Linked DNA regions of Homo sapiens: region 1 is linked to region 2. The links come from fine-mapping of genetic effects on gene expression. Tissue or cell type: CD4 T cells. Region 2 holds a variant in brackets; the other region holds the start of a gene. All regions are shown on one strand. Distances are from middle to middle.

Evidence for each region. PIP is the estimated chance that this variant, and not a neighbour inherited with it, causes the effect.
Region 1: ANXA6 starts here. The variant in region 2 is fine-mapped to the expression of ANXA6 in CD4 T cells (CEDAR, PIP 0.95). The same link has a PIP of 0.9 or more in NK cells.

Annotation. Positions count from the first base shown.
Region 1 is chr5:151,156,234-151,158,851 of GRCh38, forward strand. It overlaps ANXA6 (annexin A6), which reads right to left and starts at 1,546. Exons shown (of 26, transcript NM_001155.5): 1 at 1,447-1,546. RefSeq lists an enhancer at 1,707-2,563 and a silencer at 2,359-2,418.
Region 2 is chr5:151,099,834-151,102,591 of GRCh38, forward strand. ANXA6 (annexin A6) reads right to left here. Exons shown (of 26, transcript NM_001155.5): 26 at 873-1,674. The coding sequence ends at 1,615. Among named protein-coding and RNA genes, the nearest start is that of TNIP1, 20 kb to the left of the region's middle. The variant C/T (reference allele first, on the strand shown) is at 1,126.

The DNA.
Region 1 (2,618 bases), 56 kb after region 2:
CTTAGAACAGTTGAATCCTAGAATGTCTGCACTGGCAGTGGCAGCCAGTTCAGCAGACTTTGCTCCAGATGGGGCACAAAGCCTTAGAGAAAGGGCTTGCTCAAGAAGTCCCAGCACATCCGGACTGTAACCGGGCTTTCCTCTGACCCCAGGCCAGTGCCCTCGGCGTGGCTCAGGGCCTGCCTGCTAGGAGGTCAGGGTCCACAGGGGCTGAAACTGGGGCGGTCATTCACTTCACCATGAAGGGCTACGCAGGTCAGGATATGCCATCTGGGTCAGTGGAAGCAATCCCAAGCATGTTTTGGGCAAGGGGGAAGGAATAATGGAGGGAAAAGGGCGGACTCTTGGGGGGAAACCAGAGTCCTTTCACAAACCCGGGAGCCATATGTCCAAATTTGGAATTGTCAGAGAAGACCCACTAGAATCTAGGGAAAGGAAGGAGGAGGCAGGAAGCCGTGGCCAGATTAGTTGTCCCAAAGGACCTCCTGCCCTTTCCCCTTGTAGGGCCTACAAGGGTTGTGCCAGGCTTCCCAAATCTATAATCAAGACTCCCAAACCTGCAATCATTCCATACAGCTGACAAATAAATCAGTTTTCAAAGCCATTGTTTCCTTTGAAAGAGACTGGGTTTCTCAACTATGGACTTGGAGAAGGAAATCCAGGCTCAGAGAGGGAAAGCCACCGCCCAAAGTCACACTGCAACAGGGGCTGGGATTCCGATTCAGGGTATTTTGCTCCCATGCTGGTATATGGGGAATTATTTGAAGCCCCCAAACTTTGGGAAGGCCTAGACCGCTTAGGGGATGCAGAAAGAAGGGTAGTGCCCCTGCCTCACCATAGGAGGCCTCGGAGCCCCGTTGGGAGACTGCATTCATAGACAAGCAGTGGCCCAAAGGGGATGGGGTCCAATGAGGCCCTGAGGTATGTACGACCGGACGTTCAGCTCTCTGCACGCAGGCAGCCCTCCCCCGACACCACACACAAGCCATTTTATAAGCAGCTGGAGGGTCCAACGCTCTTGCTCTCAGTCTTGGGCCTCAGCCACACCCTTCTCTGCGGGTCCTTTGACTGGCGTCCAGCTGACCCCAACCCCGGACCTTCAAAGTCTCTTGAGCCCCCCCAAATTAAGGCCGGCAGGACCAGCCCCTGGCTCAGCTCCGGCGCCCAGGACCCTCAACCAGACCCTCTGCAGCAACGGGACTCCCTCCCCTCCCCCTAGCCAGGGCGCCCTCCGCCCGCGCCTCTCCGCCCCGACCCCAGATTTGCTCCGCTGCGCTCCCCAGACACACCCAGTCTGCGACACTCTCGGGTTACCGCGCCCTCCCGTCCCTGCTCCTGGCGGGGGGTACCCATCAGCCGATGACTGGGCGCTTATTTCTTGTGTCCCTGCAGCCCCCGGGAAGGGGTTCCCAGAGCGACTCCCCTCTCCAGCCTCAGCCCACTCACCGCGCAGCGGAGGCCTCGGGTCGCAGACGGACGCACGGGCGCAGGGACTCGAGGACGCAGCGCTCGCTGGATCGGAGCCCGTTAGCCCAGCAGCAACCGCAGCGCGGGGCGGACCGGGAGGACAGCCGTGGGCTCCGAGCCGGACACGTGGCGCGCAGAGGCCAATCCGGCGCGCCCGCCTCCCTCCTCCACCCCACCCCTCTAGCTCCTTAGCTCTTGGAATCTTAGAATGTCACTAGCCCGAGGGGCTTGCCGGGAGAACCTCCTCAGTTTCCAGCCCCCGGATCTGAGACTGAGAAGGATTAGGGGCTTTGGCCAAGGTCACGCGGCCCTTCAGGGCTAGAAGTCAGGGCTCCTGACTCCGGGTTCTGGACACTTTCCCGCAAATTCTTATAAGTCGCCAAAGCTTTGTTGAGAAACAGAAAATTGAGGTTTGCCAGGGGCACTTTATCTGCCTGATCAGATTCCATGCCTCAACAGCCTCATTAGGTCGGTGACATTATTTACCCACTTTCAGGAGGAGAGCCCAGTCCAGTTCCTGGACCAAGGTCACACAAATAGTGGGTTGCGGAGGCAAGCTTCTTCGTGCTCTGGGAAGCAGGGAAGGCAGGCAGGGAGACCAGCAGTTGTAATCCAGCGCTAGAACAGGAAAAATTGATAAACTGAGAATACAGAGGAAACTGAGAATTATTGTCCCCAGGGGATTGGTAAGGAGAAGATGAGGAAGTTAGAAGAATTGGACAGATACCTGCGGAAAGTGTTCCAGGCAGAGGAAACTGCTGGAGCAAATGCTCCTAGCAGGAGGCCACCTGGCGCCTCCGAGGATCAGCAGGGGGGCCAGTGTGGCTGGAATGGAGTGAGTGGGAGGGAGAGGAGAGATAAGAGGGACCCAATCAGGTGGGACCTCCGGGGCCCTTGAAGGCACGCTGTCTTTTACTCTGAGTCAACTGGGGATCCATTGCAGGATATTGAGCAAAGAAAGGGTATTATTTTTGGGTAGATGAAATCCACACAACATAAAATTAACCATTTTAAAGTCAACAATTCAGTGGCATTTTGTACAGACACAATGTTGTGTATCCACCACCTCTATCTAGTTCCAAAATATTCTCTTCACGGAAAAATAAAACAGTATACCCACTGAGCAGTCACTCCTAACTTTCCCTTACCCC
Region 2 (2,758 bases):
TGAAAACAAACACATGCGCCGCGCACGGTGGCTCACGCCTGTAATCCCAGCACTTTGGGAGGCCAAGGCGGGTGGATCACCTGAGATCAGGAGTTCGAGACCAGCCTGACCAACATGGAGAAACTCCATCTCTATTAAAAATACAAAATTAGCCAGGTGTGGTAGCACATGTCTGTAATCCCAGCTACTCGGGAAGCTGAGGCAGGAGAATCGCTTGAACCCGGGAGGCAGAGGTGGCAGTGAGCCAAATTCATGCCATTGCACTCCAGCCTGGGCAACAAGAGCGAAAGTCCATCTCAAAAAAAAAAAAAAAGAAGAAAAAGAAAAGAAAGAAAAGAAAACAAACACGCGCTAACCTGCAATAAACTAGTCTGGTCAGCCAGGGTAGGGAGAAGTGCCCTTTGGCCAGCAGCCAGCCCCATGCCATGGTCACTGGACAATCTTAGACCAAAGCCACAGACCAGAAGTAGGGCAGCGGGGGAGGGAAGGCAGAGGAACTGCAGTTGCGCCTACTTGCTTATCAGTGACCTGCATGAAGGAAACTTTCCATGCACCTCTCCAGATCAAGATCACATCGGGCACCCTTGCATAGTTCAAAAGAGGAAGTTTGGGCTTGGTTGAAATGGATGAAGAGCATACAGAAATGTCCAGACAGCGAGAGGGGATGAGGGGGAACCTGAGGCCCGGAGCAGGGCTGGGCCAGCCTTCCCAGGCTTGCTGCAAACTCAGATTCTCCTGTGCGCTTCCCGGGAAACACCTTGCAAGAATTTAAAGACGTAACTCGCTCCTGGACAGACTTTACAACCTCAAGCTCTAATGAGGAAAATCCAGGCTGCAGGCTCTAGGTAGAAGACAGAGGCCCTCACTGGAAATGTGTTTATGTGTTTGTGTATCTCTTTTTATTTCTTCCTTAGAAATAAAAAGTGTCAAGGGAATGAATCGGAGGCATACTTTAGGAAGTTAATGTTAGAAGGGAAGCCAAGATTTTTTTGTCCAACTGTCTCATTGTAGATAAGAAAATAGAGACTCAGGGAGGGAAAGGGGCTGGCCTAAGGTCAGAAACAAGTGCATGGCAGATGCAGATTTGAACCCAGGCATCCAAATTCCTGGTCCAGTACTCTAGCG[C/T]GGCCTGGATGGAGATGGGTGGTGAAATGGATGGGAAGATTTGTCAGTTTGCCCCAGCACATTTACTATCCTTCCCACCACCCCGCCCAGCACATTCAACTGGCCCCTGCCACCAACCCCCTCATTCAAAGTACAGACACTACTCATTTTACAGACAGAGGTTCAGGATGTTTTTGGATCTGACATAGCCCAAACCAGGGCAGAGGCTGTAGCAAGGGGAGGAAGCTGGGAAAGCCTGAGGGTCAGAGGGGAGTGGAGGTGGACAGGATCTATGGCTACGGTTTTTCAGCCGCTCAGCCGTGCTGGGCCCTCGATGGCCCGTGGGAGTGGGAGCGTTTCCTAAGCTCCACTGAAGATAAGAGCCCAACCCAACCCCTCCCCCCACCCCTGCCCCTTCCTTAGTCTCTGGAGCTGGAACAATCAGGCTTGGCCATGGCGGCTGGTGCTGATAACCATTTCTTGGCAGAAGTGCCCGCCAAAGCTGTGGCCCTAGTCCTCACCACCACAGAGAGCCAGCAAGGCCTTCAGGAAGTCTCCGGAGGTGTCACCCTGGCAGAGGCAGAGAGCAGAGTGAGTGAAAACAGTCCTTCCAGTCTCAATGCCCCCTCCTCCCGGCTGCCCATCTGTCTGGACATCTCCCTCGGCTTCTCTCCATGACCAACATAGGATCCCATGCCACATGTAGGCTACTGGGATCTCCCAGACACATAAATGTGACCACGTCCCTTTTGTTTATCCCCAGGAAGATATGCAAGCTCCCGGCCTGGCTTCAAGGCCCTTTGGGATCTGACCTGTGCAGAGCTCTGCAGCTTCACCTGTTCCTTTCCCCCAGGAGCATCTCAGTCCTCTCTCCACCTGTCACTCCCCTGTCCAACATGCCCCTGTGCACCCCCAATCCCATTTGCCAGCAGGGCCCTCTCCTCTGAGAAGCACTCTGGCCACTCTCTTGCGTCAGGAGGCACAGTGAACTCTGGCCTCCCTTGGTTCCCCTGGCACTCTGCTGATACCCTCCCCCATGGCCCTTGGCATATCGTGTTAGGTGATTTCTTATTTGAACAAACAACATTGAGTGCTAACTGCCAAGCCATTGCTGGGAATGGGTACAAACACCATCACGCTCACCACACATCACAGTGGTCTGGTATACGTTCAGACTGGGGAGGCCAAACTTCCTGACCCATGGTATGGTATGGATCTCCCTTCTGAGGGACTCCTATCATTGTTATGAGACATGGTTTTCGGGATTTTGTTTGTCCTTGTATTTTTTGATGTATGATTTTAAAACATAATATAGTATCAAAATGTGCCAACAATTTACTTACATTCCTACTAAGTCTGTAAGAGACTGCCTCTGAGATGCCCATAGTCTCGTTAGCCAAGTAGAACCAAGCATCAGACTTTAAGATCTTGGCTGATCTCAAAGAGCAAAAATATAAGCTCCATATGTCAAAAAAGTCAGACGCAGCCAGGTGTGGTGGCTCACACCTGTAATCCCAGCACTTTGGGAGGCCAAGGCAGGTGGATCACTTGAGGTCAGGAGCTAGCAACCAGCCTGGCCAACACAGTGAAACCCTGTCTGTACTAAAAATACAAAAATTAGCCAGGCATAGTGATGCATGCCTGCAGTCCCAGC